4 linked regions of the Homo sapiens genome follow. The protein of the gene in region 1 purifies or fractionates together with the protein of each later gene. This does not show direct contact. Each region holds a gene or a part of one and is shown in the gene's direction. Other genes may lie near its edges.

The links.
Region 2: the proteins of SPINDOC (region 1) and LOXL2 purify together in Homo sapiens (co-immunoprecipitation; one study listed by IntAct). This does not show direct contact.
Region 3: the proteins of SPINDOC (region 1) and RABEPK purify together in Homo sapiens (affinity purification with mass spectrometry; one large-scale study listed by BioGRID and IntAct). This does not show direct contact.
Region 4: the proteins of SPINDOC (region 1) and TRAF3IP2 purify together in Homo sapiens (affinity purification with mass spectrometry; one large-scale study listed by BioGRID and IntAct). This does not show direct contact.

What each region holds. Positions count from the first base shown.
Region 1 is NC_000011.10:63,824,148-63,831,021, forward strand, and holds the end of SPINDOC (spindlin interactor and repressor of chromatin-binding protein), read left to right. Parts: exon of another isoform or gene 1-1,500; intron 1,501-2,780; coding exon 2,781-2,992; coding exon of another isoform or gene 2,993-3,026; 3' UTR 3,027-3,569; downstream 3,570-6,874. UniProt on the Homo sapiens protein: Chromatin protein that stabilizes SPIN1 and enhances its association with histone H3 trimethylated at both 'Lys-4' and 'Lys-9' (H3K4me3K9me3).
Region 2 is NC_000008.11:23,366,723-23,374,715, reverse strand, and holds part of LOXL2 (lysyl oxidase homolog 2 precursor), read left to right. Parts: intron 1-6,281; 5' UTR 6,282-6,364; coding exon 6,365-6,719; intron 6,720-7,993. UniProt on the Homo sapiens protein: Mediates the post-translational oxidative deamination of lysine residues on target proteins leading to the formation of deaminated lysine (allysine).
Region 3 is NC_000009.12:125,228,083-125,235,695, forward strand, and holds the end of RABEPK (rab9 effector protein with kelch motifs), read left to right. Parts: intron 1-4,513; coding exon 4,514-4,663; intron 4,664-5,605; coding exon 5,606-5,898; 3' UTR 5,899-6,079; downstream 6,080-7,613. UniProt on the Homo sapiens protein: Rab9 effector required for endosome to trans-Golgi network (TGN) transport.
Region 4 is NC_000006.12:111,596,733-111,604,725, reverse strand, and holds part of TRAF3IP2 (E3 ubiquitin ligase TRAF3IP2), read left to right. Parts: intron 1-2,430; exon of another isoform or gene 2,431-3,511; coding exon of another isoform or gene 3,512-3,530; exon of another isoform or gene 3,531-6,888; intron 6,889-7,993. UniProt on the Homo sapiens protein: E3 ubiquitin ligase that catalyzes 'Lys-63'-linked polyubiquitination of target protein, enhancing protein-protein interaction and cell signaling. Transfers ubiquitin from E2 ubiquitin-conjugating enzyme UBE2V1-UBE2N to substrate protein.

The sequences.
Region 1 (6,874 bases):
GATCCGCCCACCTCGGCCTCCCAAAGTGCTGGGATTACAGGCATGAGCCACTGCACCTGGCCGGTCCTTCTCTTTATGATCTCGTGGTTACGGTGGGCTGATCACTCACTCCTTCCTGGAGACAACTTTCTTCCCTTGGCTTTTCAGGCAGCTGCTCGCCTGGTGTTCCTCTTCCCTCACTAACTGTTCCTTCTCAGTTTCTCTTGCCGCTCACTCTCAGCTCCCAGAGTTGGAACACGTCGTATCATTGTCTGCCTTTCCCTTTCTAGAATGTAAGGGCCTGCAGGTTAGGGTGTTTGCGTCCTGCACTATAATATCTGCGGTAACCAGAACAGTGCCTGGCACAGCGTAGGCCCGGCTTATGTGTTTGGTGAATGAGTACGTGCTTAAGTATCCGCAGCCGTGGGTCAGTGTCGGTACTCGCTCCCTGGGAGATCTCATCCAGGTTCACAGCTTTCAATGACATGTGTGTGCTCATAATGCCCACCTTGGCTGCTCCTTCCTGGTTCCATCCTCTTTTCCAGTTGCCCAGGTGGCGTCTCTACATGGGTGTCTAAAAGATCTCAAACATTGTGCCACCGCACTCCAGCCTGGCGACAGAGCGAGACTCCATCTCAAAAAAAAAAAAAAATCTCAAACTCGCCACATTGAAACTGAACCCCCAGTCTCACCAATGCACCCTACCCCTAGACTCCACAATCTTCCCTTTCCCAGTGAACAGGCAGCCCCAGGCTTCAGTTTGCTGTGACCACACCCACACAGTCATCCTCTTCTTTCTCCAGCCCAGCATCTGTCCAGCAGCCGATCCTCCAAAACAAGTTCAGAGCTCACACTGCTGTCACCACATCCACTGCTGCTACCCTAGTCAGGGCCGGCTCTCGCCTGGTTCCTGTAACAAACCTAAGCCAGGTCTCCTGGCTGCTGAGCTTTGCCCGCTATGCTCTGCTCTCCTGTAGCAGCCAGAGTGTCCCTGCTGAGAACACAAGTCAGATCCAGTCACTCCTCTACTCATGGCCTTTCTGTGCTGCTCCTGTTGCACTCCAGATAAAAGCCAGAGCCTTCATGGTGACTAGTGAGCTCCCCACAGGCTCCTGACCTCTCCCCCCACATCCCGCTCCCCGCACAGGCACTGGCCTTGCTGTTCCTGGGGAAGCCAGCGTGCTCCACCAGGGCATCCACATTTGCTCCTCCCTCTGCTCAAAATGCTGTTCCCTCCCTGTCTGCCTCACTGGCTCCTCACTCCCTCTGTGTCTGTGGTCCCCTGTCAGCTTTCTGCTATCCTATTATCCTATCTCCTTTCCCTGGTGTACTTTGCTACTTTGCATCTGTCCATATATAACATACTGCATTTTTTATTTGTTTATCCTATTTATTAGCTCTGATAAATAGAATGTGAAGTCCCAGAAGGCCACTTAGGGAGCTCCATTCACCGCTGTACCCCTAGCAATCCAAACGGCATTGGGCATATAGTACTCAATAAATTATTGTCAAATTAATGAACAAATGGGGTTCAGTGTTCCTTCAGGGAGCCTATAGTTTATCAGGGAGACAAACTGTGTTCTGGGAACACAGAATAGCATTTGGTAGGTGATAAAAATGGGGTGGCAGCCACTAAGTCATTTTAAATTCCAGCACATCGCACAGCAAAATTGTACCTGTTTTCTGTGCCACATTTTAAATAATCGTGTCTCTAAAAACAGGGTAGAAAAGGAACACACACAAATAAATCCTTCCCAATATAGACAGTGCAGTAGTTGAAATCACCATCTTCTGTTTTTGCCTTTCAATGTAATGTAACTTTTTTTTTTTTTGAGACAGTCTCACTCTATTGCCCAGGCTGGAGTGCAGTGGCGTGATCTTGGCTCACTGCAACCTCCACCTCCCAGGTTCACGCGACTCTCCCGCCTCAGCCTCCTGAGTAGCTGGGATTAGAGGGGTGCACCACTATGCCTGCCTAATTTCTTTGTATTTTAGTAAAGGGGTTCTCCATGTTAGCCAGGCTGGTCTCAAACTCCTGACCTCAAGTGATCTGCTCACCCTGGCCTCCCAAAGTGCTGGGATTACAGGCATGAGCCATCATGCCCAGCCCTAATGTAACGTAACCTTTGCACACGTCCCTGTTGCGTGCTCGTTTTTTATGGCTGCACGCAGCCACGGCAGTCCTCAGTCCTCTTTCCTCTGCCTCGAGGCCCAGCTTTGCCCATTATGAGTGCCTTCTCCATACTGGTAAGGTGGACACCTGGTCTTGGTGATGTAGGTGTTGACACTCAGGAGATAAAGAGCCTGGTGGAAGTTCGCCAGGGGTCTTTTCTGTCCCCCACGTAGTCCCTCATGAGCTCCTTGGTGGGCACAGCTATGCCTTAGACTGCTTCTGGGTGTTCCCACCCCATCACCTCTGCCCCACTCAGGCAGAACCCGTTAGGCTAGGATGCCCAGTAAGTTTGAGATAAAATGGAGTTGGCTGCAGGTAGGAGTTACAGGAAGAGGCACGAGCACCAGGCGTCCCTGTGCCAAAATACACACAGGAGGAAGGCTGCCTGGCTTCAGCTGGCTTGTCCCTAGGGAGGCTGTGCGCCTCATTTTCTAGCTGGCAGCAGTCCTCGATCACCCAGGAGTGGAGCTCCCTGCCATCCTTGGGCTTCCCCTCATGCCAGGCACTGGGCTGTGGACATAATGAAAGCCCTGGAAATGTGGGTACAGTTTGCGGAGCTTCCAGGGGGCATCCTCGTGGTGGGGTGTCTGGGGGGCTCTGACTGCTCTCTGCTCTCATCCCTGCCCAGCTCCCCCTCCGGGGCTCCGCGGGACACTGGATCTCCAGGTTATCCGCGTGCGGATGGAGGAGCCCCCAGCGGTCAGCCTCCTGCAAGACTGGTCCAGGCACCCCCAGGGCACCAAGCGTGTGGGAGCAGGTGACACCTCAGACTGGCCCACAGTTCTGTCAGAATCCAGCACCACTGTGGCAGGGAAGCCGGAAAAAGGGAATGGAGTGTAAATTCTTGCTTTCCTGGGGAGGGAGGGAGGGATGAGGCAGCGTCCCCCAGTGGCTTATAACTCAGAGCTGCCTGGCTCACCCACCTGGTGGAGAGAGTAGAAACAGGTGCCAGGGCAGGAGGGGGCTGGGGCAGCATCCACTGTTATTTCGGGGCACTGGAAAGTGTCTGTTCCTGGCCAGGCCTGAGGTCGGCGAGGGTGGCTGAGGCTGTTGTGCAGTAGGGCACTGGGCCTGTGGAGAACACCTACCCCAGTCCTTCGCTGACCCCCACCTCTGTTTGTCCCCCATGACCTCCTCCCACCCTCCCCCTGCTCCCCACCATTCTCCCTTGGCACAGTGCCTTACACAAGAGTGGTCATAAGGGGGTTTGAACTGAGTCCCACTACCTCGGGGGACACCTCTCCTCCCCACTTGTTCAGGCTTCTAAACCAGGAGGCCTCCATTACCTCTTCCTGTCCCACCCCTGCAGAGGCCTGAAGCTGGGCCTGGGCACCCCATTCACTCCCGTTCTCATTTACATCTGTTTTCCTGTTGTATATATCACCTTTGTTGACAATAAATTATTTTTTTTTATTAAGAGTTCCGTCTGGGCCATCATTGGGGGAGAGGGTTTGCTAGCAGGATACCTGGCCACCTAGAGCAACCCTGAGGGGCAGGAGGGTTGGAAGATGGTCCTGGGGGGAGCCAGGGAGCCACCTCTCCTGAAGGTGGGACAGCACCAGGGCAGGCCTCTGTGGAGCCCAGGAACGAGGGCTGACTTGTGCTATCAGTCACCTGTGGGCGTCTCACCCCCTCCCTTCCTCTCTGCTCTGGAAAGGGGGTCAGAAACAATTTTCTTTAACATTGTACCTTCTGGCTCACCTGGTAGGCCTCTGCCCAAAAGAGGTCACTGTAGAAGCCCAGGGGTGCTCACAACCAGGGAGCTGGGAATTAGCCTGAGCTTGCTTGCTTGCTTGCTTGCTTTTTCTTTTCTTCTTTTTTTTTTTTTTTTTTTTTTTTTGAGACAGAGTTTCATTCTTGCTGCCCAGGCTGGAGTGCAGTGGCGCGATCTCGGCTCACTGCAACCTCCACCTCCTGGGTTCAAGTGATTCTCCTGCCTCAGCCTCCCTAGTAGCTGGGATTACAGGCACCCACCACCATGCCCATGCCCAGCTAATTTTTTGTATTTTTAGTAGAGACAGAGTTTCACTATGATGGTCAGGCTGGCCTCGAACTCCTGACCTCGGGCGACCCACCTGCCTCAGCCTCCCAAAGTGCTGGGATTACAGGCGTGAGCCACCACGCCCGGCTTATCCTGAGCTTTCTAAAGTGAAATGGCGGTAACCAGCTTGCAGGTAGAAAGATGCCTCTCCTCCCTTTCCGTATGATGGTGAGGGGCACAGGGGTCCTAAACTCAGCCCCGCCTTTTCCAGCCCTACAGGCCTGCACCCTCAGCTGTCCACCTTCATCCCCCCCAACCCTTGGCTTAATTAAACCCAAACACTTGCTGGTTTCCCCTATTCCCTGGATCATGAGGAGGCCACTTTTGGTCTCTTCACCGGATTCCTTACCTTCCTAAACTAAACCAACAGGGGCCAGATCTGTGCGTGGTTTTCCCTTTGGTGAGATGGAGCACACAGGCAGCCCCTTCTCAAACCCCAGCTGTACTGTCCTGTTTAGAGCCCATGGCAGGTGTGGTAAGCAGGACTGTATACCTCTGCACATGCTGACAAATGTGCACATAGGAGAAGTGGGGGCACAGGTGGGACTTGGAGGGCAGCTATTCCTGTAGGACGCTGACATTGGCACATTTTTTTTTTTTTTTTTGAGTTGGAGTCTTGCTCTGTCACCCAGGCTGCGATCTTGGCTCACTGCAACCTCTGCTTCCCAGGTTCAAGCGATTCTCCTGCCTCAGCCTCCCGAGTAGCTGGGATTACAGGCGTGCACCACCATGCCTGGCTAATTTTTGTATTTTTTGGTAGAGATGGGGTTTTCGTCATGTTGGCCAGGCTGGTCTCAAACTCCTGACCTCAGGTGATCCACCCACCTCGACCTCGCAAAGTGCTGGGATTACAGGCGTGAGCCACTGTGCCCGGCCAACACTGCCAGATTTTGAGACTAACCAGGAAGTTCATCTCGGGCAGGCAGGGTCTGGGCCTGGGCAGCGTGTGCTGTGTGCTCACCTGATGGGGTGTCACCATGTGCCAAGCCAGGTATGAGGGATCTCACGACTTGGTGGGCTCCTGGGACATGATCCCTTCTCCCCATCTGATAAGCTCAGGAGGAGCCTAGAAATATACAGGGTCTTTGTCTAGGGGACATTAAAAGACAGGTGTGGTGGACAGAAGGCAGTGGCCAAGGCTTCAGGATGCCTTGTATCTAGTGTGGCTCCCCCACTGCATGATGGCAGGCAGGCAGGCCGGCCACGGAACTCCCATGTCTCAAACACCATTATCCACAGATTGGCAAAACTTGTATCCTACCTGATAGGAGGGAATAAATAATGCTAAAAATCTGGTTCTGCAAGCACAAATACTGCAAATGGTTTTCTCTCATCCTTTCAATCCTGTGACTTGTGTTTACATTTATGCCAATGTGCTTTTAAAACAACATGGCTGTGTTGCTGGGTGTTTACACTTGAGAAAACGTATGTAAAAGTTTGTTGTAAAATTGTGAAGCCAAATGCCCCTTTGCTGTTCTATGATTAATGGCTTGGCCTTCTAGACTGTGAGCTCCTGGGCAGGGACCAGGTTGTATTGACTTTGTTTTCCAAGTGTCCTGCCTGGGGCCTGGCACATAGTAGGTGCTCAATAAATGTTTCTCGAGTGCCCTCTGAGTGTGTATTCCTGTGTGACATTTTTCTAGTGCATGTTGGTCCCTGGAGTGTGGTTCTCAGCACAGGGTGGTTGCTACAGTGACTGTGCAGGGTGGGAACTTCATCCCCACATTGTGGCCAATAGGGGTCTCCCCAGCCTCAGCCAGGGCCCTGGGGACTATGTGAGTGTGTGTGGCCAGCAGCTGTGTGTGGCACCTCTGGGCTTCCAGGAAAGAGTTGGAGAAAGTGGGGCTGAGGATATGACTCCAGCCCAGGCTGGAAGGACCTTACTGACGGATTGCCCAGGGCTTTCCTACTCCACACCGGCTTGGAGTCCGTGACGCTGGTCCTGCATCCTGGTGCAACACCAGGGAAGCTCTGCACGAATGTCGGTGACTCTCAGGGCTGGTGGTGGCACCTTCATCCATGTGGTGCTGTGGCCCAACCATGTGTTTGGTTGAAGAAGTTGGGGAAGAGGGTGCCGCTGCCCCTGACTGCTGAGCCACACACCCATTTCCTGACTTCCCAGACCTCCTTGGCTCTCTGAAGCCAGCCACCTCCTGCCCTCCCAGCTGCCTTCCATGGGATCCAGGTGTGGGAGATCTTTTTGGATACCTAACAAGGAAAAACTTTCTACATTCCCAGTACTTCTGACACCAATGTTAGTGGGGAGGGGGGCGCCCACATCAATTCTCCGACTCTCCAGACACCAGCCAGCTGTTCTAAAATTCAGTTCTGACACTCACTACCCAGAGTTAGCACGGTCCCTGCAGGTGAAGGGCTCAGTCCCAGCAGACTGCCCCTGCTTCAGATACCAGTTCTAGGTCCCAGCTTGTCACCTGTACTTCTGACCAGCCCAAATTTGGAAGTTCCCACAACCCCCTCCTCAGTTTTGATAATTTGCTGTAATGGCTCACAAAAATCACAGAAACAGGCCGGGCGCGGTGACTTACGCCTGTAATCCCAGCACTGTGGGAGGCCGAGGCGGGTGGATCAACTGAGATCAGGAGTTCGAGACCAGCCTGGCCAACATGGCAAAACCCCGTCTCTACTGAAAATACAACAATTAGCTGGGCGTGGTTGCGGGT
Region 2 (7,993 bases), on another chromosome or scaffold:
AAATGCTCATCATTACTGGCCATCAGAGAAATGCAAATCAAAACCACAATGAGATACCATCTCACACCAGTTAGAATGGCAATCATTCAAAAGTCAGGAAACAACAGGTGCTGGAGAGGATGTGGAGAGATAGGAACACTTTTACACTGTTGGTGGGACTGTAAACTAGTTCAACCATTGTGGAAGACAGTGTGGCGATTCCTCAAGGATCTAGAACTAGAAATACCATTTGACCCAGCCATCCCATTACTGGGTATATACCCAAAGGATTATAAATCAGGCTGCTGTAAAGGCGCATGCACACATATGTTTATTGCGGCACTATTCACAATAGCAAAGACTTGGAACCAACCCAAATGTTCATCAAAGATAGACTGGATTAAGAAAATGTGGCACATATACACCATGGAATACTATGCAGCCATAAAAAAGGATGAGTTCATGTCCTTTTTAGGGACATGGATGAAGCTGGAAACCATCATTCTCAGCAAACTATTGCAAGAACAAAAAACCAAACACCACATGTTGTCACTCATAGGTGGGAATTGAACAATGAGAACACTTGGACACAGGAAGGGGAACATCACACACCGGGGCCTGTTGTGGGGTGGGGGGAGGGGGGAGGGAAAGCATTAGGAGATATACCCAATGTAAATGACGAGTAAACGGGTGCAGCACACCAACATGGCACATGTATACATATGTAACAAACCTGCATGTTGTGCACATGTACCCTAGAACTTACAGTATAAAAAAAGAAATGTTGCAAGACCACATATTTTTTTCATTTCTTTCTGGGACAGGATTAGAGGATCTGGAAGTCTCTGAAGCCCTTGGGGGATGGGGGTGGGAAAGTCAGGGGAGGGAGAGAGACAGTGCCAGGCTGGGGGTAGTAGAGCTTCGCGGTGGGGGACAGAGCCCAGGTCAGCCTGCCACCACCTTCAGATCCTGGCTTGCATTTACCGTCTGCGCAACTTTAGGCAAGTTATCAAACTTCTCTGTCCCTCAGTTTCCTCCCAAGGATAATAACAGTGCCTACCACATCAAGTGAATTAAAACACTAGAGCGTTGAGAACAGTGCCTGCACATGGGGGTGCTCTATTAATGTTAGCTGCTTGCCAAGCACTCTGTGTGACCTTTGGCAATTCATTGGCTTTCTGTCTTTAATTTCCACAAGATGGATACATTTAAAAATTAAAAAGCAACCCAAAAACTTAGCTAGGCATGGTGGCTCTTGCCTGTAGTTCCAGCTACACGGGCAGCTGAGTAGGAGGATCTCTTGGGCTCAAGAGTTCGAGGCTGCGGTGAGCTATGATCACGCCACTGCACTTCAGCCTGGGTGACACGGCAAGACCCTGCCAGGCAGTGTAGAAGAGGAAAACCTTCCTGAATTCAAAGTTAGGCCCCCCCTCCGCTGGCTCAGGTAGTTCAGACCATGAACAATCATTGATACCTTGTAGGCGAACTCCAGCTAGGCAGTCAGCTCCATGGGAAAGAAGACCTCTACTCCCAGCAGGGCCTGAGGTATAGTAGGAGCTCAATGAATTCTTGTTGAATGAATAAATCAATTTAGTACTGTGAGCTGGATGGAGATGCATGATAATAGATTTCCTCATCCAACATTCCCAAATATTTGGGGATTTTCTACTTGTTCTTTTATTAATGGTTTATAGCTGAATTCTGTTGTAGTCAAACAACATATTCTGCATAATATCATTGTATCTTAATATCTTAATATGTTTGTATCATTATATGTTCCATGTGTCCCTGGAGCATAGCTGCCTTCTGCAGTTGCTGAGTACAGTTTATAGAAACTTGTGAATTAGGTTAAGTTTGTTAATTATGTCATTCACATCTTCAACCCCAGGATTTTTCTGTGTCTTCTATCCGTTACTGACAGAGGTGTGTAAAAATCTCCCACTCTGATTATGAATTTGTCTATTTTTTCCTTTTAGTTCTATCAATATTTCTTTTATATATATTGAAGCTATGCACGTACGTTTAGAAGAGTTACATTATCCTGGTGGATTGACTTTCATTATCGTAAACTGTCCCTTTTTGTCTCTGGTAATGTTTCTTGTGTTAAGGTCAGCTTGATCGTACAAGTTTCCCTCTGGTTAATGTACGCATGGTATATCTGTTTCCATCCTTTTACATTAAGCCTCTGTGTCTCTTCTAAGAAATATAAAGCTGGATTGGGCTGGGCGTGGTGGCTCACACCTGTAATCCCAGCACTTTGGGAGGCTGAGGCGGATGGATCACTTGAGGTCAGGGGTTTGAGACCAGCCTGGCCAACATGGTGAAACCCCATCTCTACTCAAAATACAAAAATTGGCCAGGCGTGGTGGTACATGCCTGGAATCCCAGCTACTCGAGGGGCTAAGGCAGGAGAATCGCTTGAACCCAGGAGGCAGTGGTTGCAGTGAGCTGAGATCGCGCCACTGCACACTCCAGCCTGGGCAACAGAGCAAGACTCCATCTCAAAAAAAAAAAAGAAAAAGAAATGTAAAGCTGAATTGTTTTGTTATATTCGTTCTGATGATCTTTGTCTTTTAATTGGAGTATTTATTTTATCTAATGTAATTACTGATATATTGGAGTTTAAACCCACCATCTAATATTTTTTCTATTTGTAACAATTGTTTTATGTTACTTTTTATTTGTTTTATTGCTTCAATTTTGGATTAATCAAGTATTTTTTAATTCTACCATTTCTCCCCCAAACCCCCTTATTAACCTGTTAGTTGTACTTTTCTTTCAGTATATGGTTCTTACAATGATTCCTATAAAGATTACAACATGCATTTATTAGACTTGCTAAAGTCTAATAGACAATAGTACTTTTACCACTTCCCAGACAACACAAGAACCTCAAACCACTTGAGCTCCATTTAATGCCTTCCTGCCTTTCGTGCTGCGCTTGCCATGCATTTTTTTTTTTTTTTTTTTTTTTTTTTTTTTTTTGAGACAGACTCTCACTCTTTCGCCCAGGCTGGAGTGCAGTGGCGTGACCTCGGCTCACTGCAACCTCCACCTCCTGGGTTCACGCCATTCTCCTGCCTCAGCCTCCCGAGTAGCTGGGACTACAGGTGCCCGCCACCATGCCCGGCTAATTTTTTGTATTTTTAGTAGAGACGGGGTTTCACCGTGTTAGCCGGGATGGGCTTGATCTCCTGACCTTGTGATCCGCCCGCCTCAGCCTCCCAAAGTGCTGGGATTACAGGCGTGAGCCACTGCACCCAGCCAGTTGCCATGCATTTTAATCATACATGTATTTTAAACCCCACAGGACATTCTTCCTGTTTTACACACTCGATCTTCATTGAGATTTACCTACATCATTTCCTACTTCATACTCTTCATTCCTTCCTACGCCTCCTTACTGACATCTGGGATGATTTTTCCTTTTGCCTGAAGAATTCCCTGTAGTATTTCCGTCTTGTGGGTATTCTGGTGACAGACTCGCTCCTCTTTTGTTTATCTGGGATGTCCTTATTTTACCTTCGTTCTCTTCACTGGGCACAGATTCTAGGCAGACTTATTTTTTTCCGCCCTTTGAAAATGTTGCGCTGTTGAAGTCTTGTCTCCTTATTTGTGTTGAGGGGACCAGCTGTTAGTCTTTCTGCTGCTCTTTCTAAGGTAACTCAGCTCCTCTACCCTGTGTTTAAGATTTTTCTTTCTATCTTGTCTTCTCTGCAGTTGGATTTCGATGTGCCCAGATGTGGTTTTCCTTGTAAACTATACTGTGTGGGCTTGATGTCTTTTGTCATTCTGGAAAATTCTAGGCCATTATTTCTTCCATTATTTCCTCTGCACATCCTTTCTCTCCTCTTCTTTGGGATTCCATTTATGGGAATGTCAGACCTTCCTATGCCCTGGCTTCTAGAGTGCAGCTCTTCAGGAATGCATCTGAGAGCCTGGAGCTGTTTAACAGGTCCCTTTGTCCTTGGCAGGTTCTGAACTCCCGGTCTCCCCAGTCCCTGGAGGCTGCCTGCAGCTTTGCTTAGCTTCTCAGCCTGTTGATCACTGCCGTGGAATTGGCGAGTATCTTCCGGGGGAAAGCAGAGACAAAAGTGAGCCTCACCTCAATGCCCTTCCCATCTCTCTGGATTCTTGGTTCCTTCAGTCCTTGGTGCCTCGGTAGCTTTCTCGTGTCTTCGAACATATGTTTTTAATATTTTACCTTCCTTTTCTAGTTGTTCTTGGCAGGTAGCTTTATCTACTGCAAGGTAGCCTGATACATCCAGAGGCAGATGTGTTGCTGAGCAGAAATGACAAAGAGGTGGTTTCTGTCCCTTGGGCCTGAGGGTCCGGTGGCAGAGCCAGACATGACAACAATGTAAAGCACCAGCAAAATGTGATGTCAAAGGGAAGCAGAAATACATTCAATCTGATAGGAGGACCTAGGAAGGTCTCTGTGAAGAACAGGAAGGATTGCACCAGGTGCCATTTGGAGGGGAGGGGAGGGGATGGAGGCGCGTTGTTCTAGGTGTCAAAAGCTGAAGCTGGTATAGGCTGATATGATGGGATGTGTGCCATGGGCAGGGCTGGGGTGAGAGAAGGGAGACACCGTCGTGGGAACCGAAGCAGGGAAGGTAGGCACGTGCCACACATAAAGGCTTTTGTATCCAAGCTGAACCAGGACTTTTTATATGGGATGGCACATTGGGAGTGACCCATTCTGGCTTTGCTTGCAGTAACTGTGCAACTCTGGCAAAATCTCTAACCCTCTCTGGTTCTTGATTTTGTTGTAAAATAAGAATCCTAATAATACCTGCCTCTTCTACTCCCCAAGGTTCTTGTGAGGCATAGGTAAGCTTGAGGATGCAGATGTGCTTTGATGGGAATGATGAGTGGCCAGGACCCTGATTCCCTTCAGAGCCACACTACTAGGGGGTCAGGCTGTGCGTTGGTCCGTTGGTCAGGAGCTATCACAGGAACCCTCCATCACTTTCTGGCCTTGTTTGTTAGTCACAGGATGAGCATGGCTGGCTCTCCGGTGACATCAGAAAGCTTTCCAAAATCCTCAGTTCTGACTGTCCCCCAGGCTCTAACATCTCCACCCCAGCATCCTCTTCGGGGCACTGAGCACTGCTGGTCACCCAACAGACATGGAACTGCCTCACTCCAAGGCAGATCATCCCTCCATGGGCAGCTCTGGACAGCTCTGACTACAGGAAAGTTAGCCAGTCCTTCCTCAAAGGTAGTGTGCCATGACCAGAAGAATATGATTAGCCTACTCCTCTGCATAGGGTTAAAATAAAATACCTTATGCCCCCACCTAAGCTTCCACCTGCTCATCCTGGTTTGGGGCCCTGCATGTTTCTCCACAAGACACACGTGTGCTCCTTTTAAAATCGTCTCCTCTTTTCTCTGAATTACGGGAGGACCAAGATACACGAGGTCTCTTGCTACATGATTTCACTCGGGAATTCTTAGAGGTAGGCTCCACCAGATACGATGACCAGGACCTTGAGGATTTTAAAACTCATTTAGCATTGCAGCCCTCAAAGCTGACGGGAAAATTATAATTCATCTAGCAAATGTTCCTGTAGTGTTTTGGGGTGCCATTCATTTAATGGAGGGTGGGTGTGTTGAACATCCTGCCCTCACCCCTTCAGACCCGCTCCTTCTCCACCGGCCCCCATGTTCCAGGAGGCTGTCCCACACGGGCTCCCTCAATGGGCTCAGCTCCCTTGCCAGTGGCTTCGAGTTGAAGGGGGCTGGGTTTGCCTAATAGGAGGCACCAGAATGATTCAAAGACGGGAGGAAAGGGAGTCAGGTATTTATTCTCCCTCCCATGTCCCCGCCGTTGCCATGGGTTGGCTCTGAGACCCTCCAGTGAGGGCCACAGCTCCTAAGAGACAGCTCCCTCTGCCAGTCTCCAGTTCTCACCCCCGCAGGCTCCCTTCAAGCCTAGGGTGGTCACAGCCCCCTCTGAGTCGCCAGCCCTAGGGTGTGACACCGGCCTTTGTTAGTTCTGCAGAACTCTGCCGGCATGTCCGTAGTCTTAAAAAACTCTCCTTAAATTAAGTTGGAGTGTGTTCTGTTCCCTGCCAGGAACTCTACTGGAAAAAGCATTCTAGAGAGATGACAAGGCAGTAGGTAAAGGAGGTGGGACCTCCCAGCCCTGCATGGTGGAAATGTAGGAGTGGGGCTGGATTGGCGTCGAGAATGGACGAGCTTTCCATATTAAGCCAAGGGGTATGAAATCGCTGGTTCTCTATGTAGGTCTCCGTAGCCCCACGTTCCCATCCTAACGCATCTCTCCTCTCTTCCAGAAAGCTCCTGCTGCTTCTGTACCCCGCCTGTCCCTCCCAGCTGCGCAGGGCCCCTTCGTGGGATCATCAGCCCGAAGACAGGGATGGAGAGGCCTCTGTGCTCCCACCTCTGCAGCTGCCTGGCTATGCTGGCCCTCCTGTCCCCCCTGAGCCTGGCACAGTATGACAGCTGGCCCCATTACCCCGAGTACTTCCAGCAACCGGCTCCTGAGTATCACCAGCCCCAGGCCCCCGCCAACGTGGCCAAGATTCAGCTGCGCCTGGCTGGGCAGAAGAGGAAGCACAGCGAGGGCCGGGTGGAGGTGTACTATGATGGCCAGTGGGGCACCGTGTGCGATGACGACTTCTCCATCCACGCTGCCCACGTCGTCTGCCGGGAGCTGGGCTACGTGGAGGCCAAGTCCTGGACTGCCAGCTCCTCCTACGGCAAGGGAGAAGGTAAACGCTCTGTGCTTTGGATCTGAGTGCTGTCACCTGGCAAGGCCCGGAGTGGCCTTCCCTGAGGTCAGCCTGGGAGAGGAGGCTGCACGCACTGCGAAGTGTAAATTCTTGGTGATGCCCATCCAGGGACTGGCATCCTTCTGTGCCCACTCAGGCTGCACCCTGCAGGAAGGCGGGGTCGGGGGGCTTGAGGAGGGGCACAGTAAGTGACCAACCATACTGATTTGCCCAAGACTTTCCTGGCTTTAGCACAGAAAGTCTCACATCCTGGGAAAACCTCAGGAAAACCAGGACAGTTGGTGACCCCAGGTAGGGGGTGAAATCGGCCTGTGCTCCTCTCTCCGCCCCATATGCCCTGCCTGGGGGCTGCGTCAGCCCAGAGGAAGTTGCGCTTTACTCCAAATCGTTCCCTGTTAGGAAAGCCTCTTGCTCTTCCTCACAATGGCTCCCACATGCTGGAGCTCCCTGACGCCCCCCACCTTCCTGGCATGTGGAGTTCATCGTTTTCACACTAACCTGCTATTGTGGGCTTGGTCACAATAGGCACACAGATGCTTTGGGTTTTTCACCGTTGGTTAGCCTATTCTTTCCTCCCTTGTGAGGTTCAAATTTATTAGTTTATTTTTAAAAATTGTTTTAAGAGCTGGCCAGGCGCAGTGGCTCATACCTGTAATCCCAGCACTTTGGGAGACGGAGGCGGGATGATCACTTGAGGTCAGGAGTTCGAGACCAGCCTGGCCAACATGGGGAAACCCCATCTCTACTAAAAATACAAAAATTAGCCGGGCATGGTGGCGAGTGTCTGTAGTCCCAGCTACTCAGGAGGCTAAGGCACAAAAATCGCTTGAACCCGGGAGGCGGAGGCTGCAGTGAGCCGTGATCGCGCCACTGCACTCCAGCCTGGGTGACAGAGCGAGACTCCATCTCAAAAAAACAAAAAACAAAACAAAAACCCAAAAAATTGCTTTAACAGCTTTGAGGCAGGACAAAGTTTGAAGCCCTGAACCTAGAGCTCAGTCTGTACTGACCTCTGACACCACACTTTGTAGGAAGACGCATGTCCTCTCCAGCCTCATTTTCCCCATCTGGAAGTTGGGCTAAGAACCCCTGAAACCCTGACAGTGTATGTTCCCAAATAGGAAAGAGATAAGGGTGGAGGGAATTGTTTCTTTTTAAACATTTTTCCAGGAGCTAAGAGTTTCCTATCTCTGGGTCAGCCAGGCAAAGGAAGCTCCCACACCCTCCCGCCCGGCTGAGCTGCAGCCCAGACC
Region 3 (7,613 bases), on another chromosome or scaffold:
CTGTTTAAAATTGTTATTTTTATTTATTTATTTATTTTTAGACAGGATCTCTGTCTGTCACTCAGGCTGGAGTGCGGTGGCATGATCTCAGTAGCCTCAGCCTCCAGGACTCAAGTAATCCTCCTACCTCATCCTCCGCAGTAGCTGGAGCTACAGGTGTGTGCCACCATGCTTGGCTAATATAAAATTTTATTTTGGTAGAGATGGGGTCTCACCATGTTGCCCAGGCTGATCTCAAACTTCTGTGCTCAAGTGATTTTTTAGTGTGCTTTGAAAGAATATGGCCTTGCTTGGCCAGGTGCAATGGCTCATGCCTGTAATCTTAGCACCTTGGGAGGCTGAGGCAGGCATATCACCTGAGATCAGGAGTTTGAGACCAGCCTGGCCAACATGGTGAAACCCCGTGTCTACTAAAAATACAAAAATTAGCCTATTGTCATGGCACATGTGCCTGTAATCCCAGCTACGTTGGTGCCTGAGTCAGGAGAATCGCTTGAACCCAGGAGGTGGAGGTTGTGGTGAGCTAAGATTACGCCACTGCACTCCAGCCTGGGCCACAGAGCAAGACTCCATCTCCAAAAAAAAGAAAAAAAAAAAAAAGCCGGGCTTGGTGACTCACACCTGTAATCCCAGCACTTTGGGAGGCTGAGGCTGGGGGATCATGAGGTAAGGAGGTCGAGACCAGCCTGGCCAACATAGTGAAACCCCATCTCTACTAAAAATAAAAAAAATTAGCCAAGTGTGGTGGCACTCGCCTCTAGTCCTAGCTACTTGGGAGGCTGAGGCAGGAGAATTGCTTGAACCCGGGAGGCAGAGGTTGCAGTGAGCCGAGACCACACCATTGCACTCCAGCCTGGGTGACAGAGTGAGACTCCATCTCAGAAAAAAGAGCTGGGCACAGTGGCTCATGCCTGTAATCCCAGCACTTTGGGAGGCCAAGGCAGGTGGATCATCTGAGGTCAGGAGTTCGAGACCAGCCTGGCCAACATGGTGAAACCCCATCTCTACTAAAAATATAAAAATTAGCCAGGCGTGGTGGTGCATGCCTGTAATCCCAGCTACTCGGGAGGCTGAGGCAGGAGAATTGCTTGAGCCCAGGAGGCAGAGGTTGCAGTGATCCAAGATCATGCCACTGCACTTCATCCTGGGCGACACAGCAAGACTCCGTCTCCAAAAAAAAAAGAAAAAAAGAAAAAAAAAATCAGCCAGGCTTGGTGACAGGCACCTGTAGTCCTGGCTACGTGGGAGGCTGAGGCAGGAGAATCGCTGGAACCTGGGAGGTGGAGGTTGCCGTGAGCTGATTGCACCCCTGCACTCCAGCCTAGACGACAGAGTGAGACTCCGTCTCAAAGAAAAGAAAAAAGAAAAAGAAAATATAGCCTTGCTCTTATGTGTAGGTAACTTGACCAGCTGGCAGAATCTTCATCAGATTCTGTTACCTCTGGACAGAATACTAATAATAAAAAATCATAGCACTAAATAATCTCCTGAGTGCTTACTATGGACCCAGCCATTTATTGTCTCTTAACCTTCCAACAGTGCTCTCCTTTCATTACAACCCATTATGCTTTGTGTTGGCCTACTGGATTTCTTTCTGGTGTTAGCCATTAACCCATGAAGGATCTGGATAATGTGGATGTAGATGACTAGAGTTTCATGCTTTTCATGTTAAATGGTTGAAAACAGTGGGAAGAGGAAGGTTAGAGAGAACATGAGAAATATCCTTTAAGTATCTGAAGGGCTGATATGCTGTGGAGAGACCCTGGACTCATTCTGGGCAATTCCTTCAAGCTGTGAGGTCCATTATGGTAGGGAACTTGTCTATTTTGTTCTCCAGTACATTTCTAGCACTTAGCACAGTGTCTGGCAGATAGTGGGTGACAGGTACTTTCTTTTTTTTGAGATAGTGTCTCACTTGGTTGCCCAGGCTGGAATGCACTGATGCGATCTTAGCTCATGGCAGCCTCTGCCTCTCAGGTCAAGTGATTCTCCTGCCTCAGCCTCCCGGGTAGCTGGGACAACAGGCACGTGCTACAACACCCAGATAATTTTTTTATTTTCTGTAGAGATGAGGTTTCACCATGTTGCCCAGGCTGGTCTCCAACTCCAGGACTCAAGGGATCCACCCGCCTTGGCCTCTCAAAGTGCTGGGATTATAGGCGTGAACCACTGCTCCCGGCTCATACCTGTTATTGAGTGGAGGGATGAAGAAATGAACATGTTCTGCATTGCTCCAGACTACAAGAACTGGAACAATGGGCAGAAGGCATGGGAAGTCCTGTGTAGTGTATCGGGCTGACTTCCCAAGCCCTGAATTATCTGGCTCCATGACAGCTGAGGCCAGGGGACACTGGCTTTGTATTCTTGCATTGGCTAGAATTTTGGCCACACCGGGTGATTCTCCCTTCTTACTCTGAGATGCTGGGCCCCTGCCTTGCATTGACAGATGGAAACTATTTTTTTTTTTTTTTGAGATGGAGTCTCGCTCTGTTGCCCAGGCTGGAGTGCAGTGGTGCAATCTTGGCTCACTGCAAGCTCTGCCTCCCGGGTTCATGCCATTCTCCTGCCTCAGCCTCCTGAGTAGTTGGGACTACAGGTGTCCACCACCACGCCCGGCTAATTTTTTGTATTTTTAGTAGAGACAGGGTTTCACCGTGTTAGCCAGGATGGTCTCAATCTCCTGACCTTGTGATCCGCCCACCTCGGCCTCCCAAAGTGCTGGGATTACAGGTGTGAGCCACTGCGCCCGGCCGACAGATGGAAACTATTTACACAAAACCATTCCTTGCGGGCAGTCAGATGGGGTCTTAATGCTTATTTTTAAAAAGAGCCTTTTTCTGGTGTTAGGAACTACTTGTTGACTATTTTTCCTGCCTACCCAAGTAGTTCTCTAAATCTAAAATCCAGTGATAGCTTGCCTTATTTAAATGCTTGTTTTGGCTGGGAGCAGTGGCTCACCCCTGTAATCCCAGCACTTTGGGAGGCCGAGGTGGACGGATCACCTGAGGTCAGGAGTTTGAGACTAGCCTGGCCAACATGGTGAAACCCTGTCTCTACTAAAAATGCAAAAATTAGCCGGGTGTGGCGGCACGTGCCAGCTACTCTGGAGGCTGAGGCAGGAGCATCGCTTGAATCCGGGAGGTGGAGGTTGCAGTGAGCTGAGATCGCGCCACTGCACTCCAGCCTGGGTAACAGAGTGAGACTCTGTCTCAAAAGAAAAAAAAATGCTTGTTTGAAAAGATGCAAGTTTCCCTGCAAAAATAGGTGGGAAGTAGGCGCTAAGGCAGCACATTATCGTGTAGAGATTTTGGAGACACAGGCTTTGGAGCCACACCTAAGTGCAGTCTTGCTGTGCCACTTACAAGCTATAGGGTCTCGGACAAGTCTCTTTCCTTCTCTATTCTTGTTTGCTCATTTGTAAGAAGAAAGGGGAGGCCAGGCACCAGGCCATGGCTCCCGCCTGTAATCCCAGCACTCTGGGAGGCCGAGGTGGGTGGATCACGAGGTCAGGAGTTCAAGACCAGCCTGGCCAAGATGGTGAAACACCGTCTCTACTAAAAATACAAAAAATTAGCCAGACCCGGTGGCAGGTGCCTGTAATCCCAGCTACTCGGGAGGCTGAGGCAGAGAATTGCTTGAACCTGGGAGTCAAGATCAAGCCACTGCACTCCAGGCTGGGCAACAGAGCGGAAAAAAAAAGAATAAGAAAGGGGATAGGCAGAAGTAATAGAAATTTCATAGGGCTGTTATGAAAATTAAGTGAGCAAAATTTGTTGTTTAGCCAGCACTTACAAAATCGCTAAGGAACTGTATTTTTTTTTTTTTTTTTTTTTTGAGACGGAGCTTCGCTCTTGTTGCCCAGGCTGGAGTGCAATGGTGTGATCTCAGCTCAGCGCAACCTCCGCCTCCCAGGTTCAAGCGATTCTCATGCCTCAGCCTCCTGAGTAGCTGGGATTACAGGCATGCACCACCATGCCTGGCTAATTTTGTATTTTTAGTAGAGACGGGGTTTCTCCATGTTGGTCAGGCTGGTCTCGAACTCCCGACCTCAGGTGATCCGCCCGCCTCGGCCTCCCAAAGTGCTGGGATTACAGGCGTGAGCCACCGTGCCCGGCCCAGGAACTGTATTTAAAGTACACACACACACACACACACACACACACAGAGACAGAGAGAGAGAGAGAGAGAAACTGAGCTAATTCGAGGCAGTTAATAGTGAATGGTTGAAGGTGACTGTTATTATAAAGGTTGTATCACATTTCTGTGTGATCCAAAGACTGCCTACATCAGAATCGCCTGAGATTCTGGGAATCACTGAGCCCCTCCCTGCCTTCCTCCCTGGACTACCCAATCATAATGTCAGAGTTCCCCAAATAATTCTTATGTGCACTAAACCTCTCAGAGCTCTTGGTGAATGACTTTCAGTGATTGGTGTGCAAACTACAGTAGATAGATAAGTTTGAAAGCACATCTTAGCCCATGCTGCGCCAAAGCTCTTTCTTTCTCTTGGCAGGTGACATGAAATGGCAGAAGCTAAATCCCACTGGGGCTGCTCCAGCAGGCTGTGCTGCCCACTCAGCTGTGGCCATGGGAAAACATGTGTACATCTTTGGTGGAATGACTCCTGCAGGAGCACTGGACACAATGTACCAGTATCACACAGGTGAGCAGGTGTCCATGGGGGATCTTTAAACAAATCTAAACATTCTTTGAAACGTGATGCGGTGGCTCACGCCTGTAATCCCAGCACTTTGGGAGGCCGAGGCAGGCAGATCACGAGGTCAGGAGATCGAGACCATCCTGACCAACATGGTGAAACCCCATCTCTACTAAAATACAAAAAATTAGCCAGGCGTGGTGGCGGGCGCCTGTAGTCCCAGCTACTCGGGAGGCTGAGGCAGGGGAATTGCTTGAACCCAGGAGGCAGAGAGGTTGCAGTGAGCTGAGATCACACCACTGCACTCCAGCCTGGTGACAGAGCGAGACTCTGTCTCAAAAAAAAAAAAAAAAGAAAGAAAGAAAAAAGTGATGCAGTGCTTCCAATTTGGTTCCTCTATATCTAAATCCAAAAGAATGAAAACTCTGTAGGGGATGACATCAGGAAAGCAGCAATGCTGCCATAAGGTTTTTTTCCTTTTACTCCTGTTTGTTAGGACTCGGCTGCTACAGTAAATCACTGAGCATTTCTAGAAATTTCATTACTTTTTAAATTTTATTCAGATTTTGGCTTTCACTATCTGGAAATTGTTTTTTTTTTTTTTTTTTTTTTTGTCTGAGATGGAGTCTCACTCTGTCGCCCAGGCTGTAGTGCGGTGACGTGATCTTGGCTCACTGCAAGTTCCACCTCCTGGGTTCACGCCATTCTCCTGCCTCAGCCTCCCGAGTAGCTGGGACTACAGGTGCCCGCCACCATGCCCAGCTAATTTTTTTTTTGTATTTTTGGTAGAGACGGGGTTTCACCGTGTTAGCCAGGATGGTCTCCATCTCCTGACCTCGTGATCCACCCGCTTCGGCCTCCCAAAGTGCTGGGATTACAGGCGTGAGCCACCGTGCCCGGCCTATCTGGAAATTTCTTAACATGAAGCCTTTTCCCTCCCCAACATAGAAGAGCAGCATTGGACCTTGCTTAAATTTGATACTCTTCTACCCCCTGGACGATTGGACCATTCCATGTGTATCATTCCATGGCCAGTGACGTGTGCTTCTGAGAAAGAAGATTCCAACTCTCTCACTCTGAACCATGAAGCTGAGAAAGAGGATTCAGCTGACAAAGTAATGAGCCACAGTGGTGACTCACATGAGGAAAGCCAGACTGCTACACTGCTCTGTTTGGTGTTTGGTGGGATGAATACAGAAGGGGAAATCTATGACGATTGTATTGTGACTGTAGTGGACTAATAAAACCCACATTTTTATTACCTGTCAGTTACTTTCAGAATAGTTAAGTAAAACATTAGCTGTTTTATACCTCCAAAATATCTTCTGCATTATATATCTGTTTTTCTCCTACTTTGGTAGGTGAAGAAACTAATGCAAATAATTCTTATGTGCACTAAACCTTGCTATATTGCCTCTCAGAGCTCTTGGGAATGACTTTCAGTGACTGGTTTGCAAACTGTGGTAGATAGATAAGTTTTGCCCAATGCAAAAACCTCCACTGCATTAACATAAAAGGCTTTGGGCCAGGCTTGGTGGCTCACGCCTGTAATCCCAACACTTTGGGAGGCTGAGGAGGTGGATCACCTGAGGTCGGGAGTTCAAAACCAGCCTTACTACCATGAAGAAACTCCGTCTCTACTAAAAACACAAAATTAGCCGGGTGTGCTGGCCCATGCCTGTAATCCCAGATACTCAGGAGGCTGAGACAGGAGAATCGCTTGAACCCGGGAGGCGGAGGTTGCGGTGAGCTGAGATCACACCATTGCACTCCAGCCTGGGTGACAAGAACGAAACTCTGTCTCAAAAAAAAAAAAAATATATATATATATACATATATACACACATATATATGTATACATATATAGTATATTTATATGTATACATATATATGTATACATATTTATATATACATGTATTTATATATGTATACATAAACACATATATATGTATACATATATATATATATAAAAGGTTTTGCCAACAATACAAACCTAGGTAGGTGTGATTTGTGTATTAAATGCTAATCACAAAGTTGCAATATGGTTAGGGTTAAAAAAGAAGTTGCAGAATTATAATTGGTAAACAACAAACTATAGACATCAGACACATAGTTGAAGTCTATCTTTTTAATATTCAGTAACAGCTCCTCAGAAAGAGTTACAGACTAGGTGGTCCACGGTAGTGAGAGCCTTTGAGGTAAGGGAAGACTAGCCCTAGTTGCTAACTACCATTTAACCCTATTGCCCCAGGGTACACAGCACTGTAGGTCATCTTTAATGGCTGTATTGGGCTTGGCCTGAGACCAGTATTCTGCTCAGGGTCTGCCCAAATGCTTTTCGGGCAGTGCAGCTGAGGCCTAGGTCTAATTAAGAGTTTGGTGTTGGGATCCAGTTCTACTAGCCCTAGAGAATTAACCTTTCAGCCAGTTGCCCATCTATAAAATACCTATCCTTGGGCAGTATTGGATTCTTTTTTTTTTTTTTGAGGTGGAGTCTCACTCTTGTCGCCAGGCTGGAGTGCCGGGCTGGAGTACAGTGGTGTGATCTCGGCTCACTGCAACCTCTGCCTCCCGGGTTCGAGTGATTCTCCTGCCTCAGCCTTCAGCTTGCACTACCACGCCCAGCTAATTTTTGTATTTTCAGTAGAGATGGAGTTTCACCATGTTGGCAAAGATGGTCTCTATCTCTTGACCTTGTGATCCACCCGCCTTGGCCTCCCAAAGTGCTAGGATTACAATATTGGATTTTATGTTAGCACCAGCCTGTCCTTTATTGATCATACCATTTACCTGGACTCTTTTCTTCAGGAACACAATCTAAGTAATCCTAAACCAGTTTTGACACAAACCATTGCCTTTAACAACCCATTCATAGTGAGGGGATTTAGTGTAGTTTCAATGTCACCATCCAAGATCCCACCCCAGTACCACTAATGAGAAATTTCAGGGATGGAGA
Region 4 (7,993 bases), on another chromosome or scaffold:
TGCCTAGTAGGTGCTCACCCCCCTTCCATGTCAACTGCTTTGATTTCTGTTTCACTCGTCTGCTCTCAAGGCAAGAGGTAAAGCAGCAGTCAGGGCGAAAGGCTGGGAGACACGTGTCTCTGCGGGAGGGCTGCCTGGAATTGAGGCCTTATTACTGGCTCTAGCCAAATAGGAGAAAACAGGGAGTTTCTCGAATTAGTTCATGTCCCATTTGGGTTACCCAGGAAGGATAGTCTGTGCTATTGTCCACAGAGTCAAGGCAGGCCAGAGAACTGGCAGACAAGCCCAGCTCCAGAAGCCAGAGTTACTGCTGTAGCTGGACCTGGAAACCACTCCTCAGCTGGACCAGTCACTGTGTGTGGGGCCTTTAATGGGAGGGGAAGGGAAACTATGAAACACATCCTAATACCATGTAAGGGTGATGACTGTGATTAGAGACATTATTAGATGGCGGATACACAGAATCCTTAACTTTTTCCAGACCGTGACTTAAAAAAAAATTGTCATTGTTTCTTTTTGGCAATTACTTGCCATCAATACAGTTCAAACAGGCCCTAGCTGACTGGGATGGGCTGGTGCAGGACTTTTGGTTTCTGTGGGATGTCCTGGTGTAGTCCGTGTCATGTTTTTAGGCATTTCTCTCTATTCCCCTGGGATGAAAGGACAGGAATTTCAAGATATTTCACCTGCAATGAGTTCCTGATTTTATTTTCAAACAACGATGCACCATTATCTGAAAGCAGGCTAACTGTTGTGCACTTGCCAGCCTCGCTCTAATCCTTAAAGGCCACACACCACAGTCATTCTTAATCTGCTGCTGCAGCTACCAGTCACTCCATGATGGAGCATCAAAAGATGGATAATGTAGTTACTCTGCTCTGTTCCTTGCATGGGGTGGGTTAAACAGAAGTGAGGTCTGAGTAATGTACCAACATGTCGGATAGAAAGGTTCTTAACTCAGGGTTACTCATTTTTGGAAGGTGTAGAGACAGGAAATGTTAAAGCCTGCTTCTCCTGGGATTAAGGAGTTAGTGACTTTCAAATGCTCTGAAAAGAAAAAGAAGAGGAGAAGACAGTCATATCTGCAGGCATTCTTCAACAGGCATTCAGAAAGATTATGGTGGGGTAGTTTGTCTAAATGAAATCTTTGTTTTACACGTTGTAGAATGGAAATCTCAGGAATATCCTGAATTCAAATCATTTTTCTTCTGCAGGCAATTTTAAATTAGCTTCTAAAAACATATATGAATTGCAGGCAACTGCTGCAGAAAAAAAAGAGTGAACACAGATGAGGCATATTCAACTTTAAATTCCTTTCAGATCCAATGAAATGACCCCTAATGTTTGATCACATTTCCTTATCAAAACAATCCTGCAGTCTGAAGGATTTTTCCATGAGAAAGTGTCTGAGGACTGGAATCAAGAAGCTGCCCCCCGGGCCTCTCCTGTTTCTTCCCAATGCGTTGTCACCAAGATATTTTTAGTTCATGAAACTCAGGCTGTCCTTTCTCCCACTTATGGTCTTTGCCTCCCGTGCCCAGCAGGCCTCCTAGAAGCACACATGTGCTTGGCTGTGACTACTCAGCTCACTCTGTAGCTGTGTGTGCACGCCTTGTGTGTGTGTGTGTGTGTGTGTGTGTGCACACCTTGTGTGTGCACAGACCTTCCCGGATACCAGGAGTTGTAGACTGGCTGAAGAAGGGTGGGCTTCCATCCATGGGGTGATCCTTAGGTCTGTGCTGGTTTGGCTTGGTTCCCTGATAAGGCAGCTGAACTCAAGCCCTTTAGGAGGGCCAGGACTGACCGGAGCTCCCAGCCTGTGCCCCTCTCCTCGCACCCCACAGGCCGCACCCCACAGACTGAGGCTGCCTGGGGTCTTGGCAGCTCCCTCAGCAATGAGGGATACTTGCTCTCCGCTGCCTCATTGTTTCCCTGCAGTCAGGATGCCAGTGTTTTTTCCCTTTCCCCTTCCCAGAGTCAACAGGTCTCCCTCCCCGCTCTGAACTCTCTTCCTACTCTGAGCTGTCTGTCCAAACTCTTCCTGGCCTCCCAGCTTACCCTATGACACTCTTACCTTTCACCTATATTCATTCTTTCCCTTCTCTTCCAACTGCCCCTTCTCATACCCAGCACTACATACAAATTACAAGTAAATAAGTGTCTCTCCTACACCAATAAAAGGCAAATACAAAAAAATCCTTCAGCGTTTCCCCACTTTCCTTACTTCTCTTCCGTTCTCCTTCCTTCCTTTCTCTCCCTTCCTCTTCCTCTCTTGGTTTTTCCTTTCTACCCCTTCCTCTCCTTCACTCCGTGGCTGTGGCTGAATTAGGGATCACACATGTGCTTAGAGAAACCATCTTATCTGAAGAAACAAAAAAACAAAAACCAAAACAATGACAACGACAGAAAAAAAAAAAAAACATGGGCTGGTTTGAGGTTGTTCTCTAAATGTTTATTATAACTTCTAATGTGATGGAGTCAGTGTGTTCCCATTAGTCCTTCTCCTCCTCATTTAGTAGCTCAGAGGAGTCCCAGAGCAAACTTCCTCAAATCAGGTCGGTTCATACTGCACTGCCTTCAGCCTGATGTGAGTCTTACTGTGCTGGGTTTATGTCCAAGGGCCAGTAAATATTCCCTTCCTTCCAGGGCTCACCACTGTTTCAAATCCTCTGGCAAGCCCAGTGGAAGAACTTCTCTGTATGGGAAATTCAGCAAGTAAACTTGGAAGTATTTGTTCATTGGAGTTTGAATCTGAGCCAAACAGTTCACTCAAAACCAACCTTCCACTCAGCAAACCAGTGTTATGAAAGTTTGCATGCATTTGGGCAGGAAACAAAGGACATTAATGAGTTTAAAGATTTTTTTTTAAATCCATGACTTTTGGACATTTATTAAAAAGATTACTCTCTGGGGAATGAAGTAAGGCCTTGGGAATCTTGTAATTGAAAGTTTCTGATCCGAAGTAGATCTCAGGATCCTCCCAGCTGTAAATTTATAGATTTCTTTTTAATGTCCACCTGAAATATTCATGCTGTGTGTCTCTAGGACGCTTCAAACCTATTCCTGACTCAAAGAAAGCTTAAGAAAAAATCCAAGCAGTTGTGATCACCAAGGCCTGATTATGGAGGAGCTGTTAATATGGTTTATTAATTACTCAGGCTGCTCACTCCTGTCCTTCCTCTGTTCCTTGCTGTGCTATTTGTCTTCTTCTGGGGACATAACACCTTCATTAAATCCCATCCGTCCTTGCCTTAGAGTTGTCCCCTGGAAGATAGCTCCCCTCTAGATGCATCACCATTTATCATCACCCTTTGTTGGTGCTCTGTCAACCAGTTTTCAATTTATTTTGAATTCAGTTAATGATTAAAATTTAATGAGATCCAGTCAAATGCTTTTCTCAAATCAAGATGCCTCTGCAGCCTCATCTGTATCCTCTTGTGATGGCGTGAAGGAAAGCCATGGCAGATTTCCAGCCTGGTGATGCTGTACAGAACACAGGTGGCCTGCTTCCATGCCTCCTCAGCTTCAAGGTGAATGGCTCTGAAGCATATTTATTACAGAATCTCCTAGGGGTTATGTGGCTTCCCCATCCCCTTTCTTCCCTCCCAATAGCTGAACCAGTCAGTGCTCCCAACCGAGATGCAAGCGGTTAAGTGCACAGGATCTGGTGCCAAACCGCTTATATTTGAATCACAGCTCTGCTACTTAATAGCCATGTGACCTCGGAAAAGTTACTTACCTTCTCTATGCCTTGCTTTTCCTGTCTGTAAAATGAGTCTGACAATAGTACTTAGGAAATTAGAGTGGGTGTGAGGATTAAGTAAGTTAATATATCTATCACACTTGGAACAGCATTTCCCACGTAGTCACCATTCAATAAATATTAACAATGATTGCTAACAAAGAGTAAAGTTCCTTAAGTATGTCAGTTTCATTAGGTTTGTATTTTGGCTTATCAGTGTACAATCTATATCAACAGTAAACTACAACCCTAGAGCCAATGGTTACCATGACCTGTTTTTAGCACCAGCCTGTTGCTCAGAATGGTTTTTATATGTTTAAAGGGTGTCTTTTCTTAAAAAAAATAAAAATAAAAAAGGAGCAGAATATGAAACAGACACAGCATGTGGCCCATAAGGCTTAAACTATTTACTATCTGTCCCCTTTGCAGAAAAAGTTTGCCAACCCGTGATTTATATGGTTTAATGGAAAGAGCTTGGAGATCTAAAGGCTTGATTTGGCTTCACCCATCACTTGTTAAGTGACTATGGAAAAGCTTCTCAATGTGTCTAAGCCTCTGTAAAACAGGAATGGCAAAGTGGTAACACGTACCCTGCTTATGGCCTAGGCTTGTTTTAAGGACCAAACGAGATGATGTGTATCAAATGTGCCGGAAATGACTCATATATACACGTTTGTTAAAAAGATATGGTCTCTATACATTAGCTTCATAGAATAGTATTAGCACCTGGGTGTAAAACCAGGGAATACTGTTTTTAAAAAGAGAGCTCTGAAGCCAGATAATAACTGCAGTTGTCGTTGCGGTAAAAATAACAAAATGGCCATTGCTTTTTAAGAGCTTGATATGTGCCAGGCTCTACATTCAACACTTTATTTACATCTACTCTTTATCCTCACCACACCCCTATGGAGAAGTGTTGCTATTTTCCCTATTTTGCAGATGAGAAAAGTGAGGCCCAGAGACGTTAGGTAACTTTGTCAAGATCACAAATCTAATCATGCAGCTAGCCGGCACAGGGAGAATTTAACCCTAGGGAGTCTGAACCCAGAGCCTGTGCATTTAAGTATTGCATATGTTCCCACATCCTAGGAATATGTGTTGATTTAGGGTAAGCCCATCTGGAAGGCAGAAGCCACTGTTCACTGTGGATGTGGGCATGAAGTCTGTTCATGTGTGCCCTGGGAGAGACTTGCTTCCCACACAGGCCACGGTGGACTCTAACGGACCTGAAGAAAGGGAGGCAGGCATGATGGGAGGAAAAGCTTTTTGGTGAACTCTGAGATCAGAAAGGTAGCGCTGTGAAGACTAATAGGCTCTGTTTCAAAAAACTAGTAAGTTAAGGAAGATTGTGCTAAAAGAGGAAAAGATTGCTGGGAACAGACATGAGCAAACAGTTGGAGGCAGCTCAAGGGGCTTGACTGAGAGCTGTGTACAGAAAAAAAAATTAAAAAAGAGAGAGGGTGAAGCATGGGAAAATCTGTCACTGGGACACCAAGGGAGCATTGTCACATGGACAGCAAGGGAGCATTGTCACATGGACATCAGGGCTGCTGACATCTGGATGTGACATTATTCGCAAAACTAGGCAGCTCGGGGCAGAGTAGAGAAGCCCAGAGAAAGGTATCAGGCCCGAGGAGGCAAAAAGGAAGACAAAGCAAGGGACCTGGAGAGAGAAACTGACATATTTGAGGGAAGATGCCCATCAGATCCAAGAGCTAGAACCACAGCTCACAGTCCAAACGGTGATGAGAGTCCAGAGATTAAAAGCTACTGTCAGGCTGGGTGCAGTGGCTCATGCCTGTAATCTCAGCACTTTGGAAGGACGAGGCAGAAGGATTGCCTGAGCCCAGGAGTTCGAGACCAGCCTAGGCAACATGGCGAGACTCTGTCGCTACAAAAAAAAAAAAAAAAAAAAAATTAACCAGGTGTGGTGGTGCATGCCTGTGGTCCCAACAATATGGGAGGCTAAGGTGGGAGGAAGACCTGATCCCAGGAGGGCAAGGTAGTTGTATGTCCCTGGGAATCACCTCTGTACCCAGCTCATGCCCACCCATGCTTACCCCAGGCACATGTTCTCACCCTCTGCTGAAAGGTTTTTGATATTTGAAGAGATATGTTCACTGTCTCCTGGGCGGTGTCATGAGTTCCTCATTCGCATTGGTTCTTAATCTTTGTGAGCATCAGAATCACTAGTGGAGCCTTTCCTTTTCATTTTTTATCTTTTAAGTCAAAATAGATGCACTTGTTACAAAACTTAAATAGTATAAAATGTTCTGAAAAGCAAACCTCTTTCCTACCCCATTCCTAGCCATCCAATTCCCTTCCCAGAGGCAACCACTGTTCCTCATTTGAGATGGCAGATATACGACCTTATATCATACAAATGATGGCATACCCTACACACTGTGCTACTCTTGAATTTTTTTAACTTAATAAATCTTAGAGATAGTTCCATTTCAGTTCACACAGCCCTTCCTCATTCTTAAAGGATGTGGAGTGCTCATTGTACAGATATACTACAGTTTTAAAAATCAGAACCTTTAGACATGTGGGTTGTGTCTGGTCTTCGCTATTATAAACACTGCGGCGTTGCCTGTCTTCGTAGCCTCTTCATTTCATACAAGATATACATATCTCTGCAGGGGAAATTCTTAGAAGTGAAATTACTAGGTCAAAGGGCATAAGCTTTTAAAATTCTGATAGTTATTGCCAAATTGCACAGATCACATTTCCCTTGGCAAAGTATGAGAGAACCTGTTTACCTGTGAGACTTAAACAAAAATACACTAGTATTTTACATACAATAAACAAAAATACTCAGAGGCCCTGGGTGTGGGGCCTGGGCTCTGTATTGGGAGCCTCAGAGAGGGGTTCTGAGCCAGGAACTCTCCTGGGCTTCTTCGCCCTCCAGCCCCGCTCTCCCCCCAGGATTTGCTGATGAGCCTGAGATGACCCAGGGCACTGCCAGCATGGGGGCTCCCAGGGTCCTAGTTGGCAGGTCTCCTGTTCCCCTGAGGAGTCAGTGCTTGCTCCCTGGGTCATGGCTGGAAAACAGGGCTTTTCCACTTCAATCCAGGCACCGCCCTCTGGTAGAGACTGGAGCAAAGGTCATGCCAGAGTTACAAGCACGTAAATATGGAGAAAGCCTGGAAAAAAAAAGGAAAAACAGAAAAATGGGTCGGGTCAGAACAAGCAAGAACCAGGCTCACATGCACAGCTGTTCCATCCAGTTATATGTCCCCAGGACTCACCTCTGTCCCCAGTTCATGCCCACTCGTGCTTACCCAGGGTACATGCTCTCACCCTCTGCTGAATGGTTTTCTTTGTATTTTAAAAATACAATGGTGAGATACTGAGTGATTGCTTTTTAATGTTTAGTATTTTTACACTATGGACATTAAAGACAAAACAGATAAAACTGCCATCCTTGACATAACCCATTAATCTGTCTGTGGCCCCCTGATGTGGCATTTGTAATTGTTCTCTATGACTGCCTCAGGAGAGTTGGCAGGGTTGCCCACTTTCTGCCAGTTCAGACAGGGGTCTGGGGCTGGAGGGGGCCTGTGTGGTAGTGGCAGGCGTGCCCCACCCTTTTCAGTTCTAGGTGGAGCTCTGCAGAGGCACAAAGACCAGCAACTCCCTGCCTGGAATCTAAGAGCAGATGCTCCCATTACACTGGCTGATGGCATCACCTTTATTCTGCAAGTAAGGGTTGTGGTCAATCCTGCCCATGGGCAGGACCTTTGGGCATGGCCCAGACCTAACTTGGGTGCTTGACACATAGTGGGCACTTAATAAATGTTCTGGAGAGGAAAAAAAAAGAAGAGGGAAGGGTCACCCACGTGGCATAATTTTAAGAACTCTGAGGACCAGGCCCACCAGATACTCCTTGCTACCCAACATTGTTGTTGACAACATTCTCATTGTCACTGATCCGGCTACATGGACCTGTCTGTCCCCTCTCTGAAATAGGCATCAACTATTTATTCATTCAGTGAATCTTTATTGAGCACCTACTATGTGCCAGGTGCAGTTCTAGGTGTTGAGAATATAGCTGTAAACAGAACAGTCAAAAATCATGCCCCCAGGCCAGGCGTGGTGGCTCACTTATAATCCCAGCACTTTGGGAGGCTGAGGTGGGAGGACTGCTTGAGGTAAAGAGTTCAATACCAGTTTGGGTAGCATAGTGAGACCTCATCTCTACAAAAAAATTTTAAAAGTCAGGCACACCGACTGGCGCAGTGGCTCACA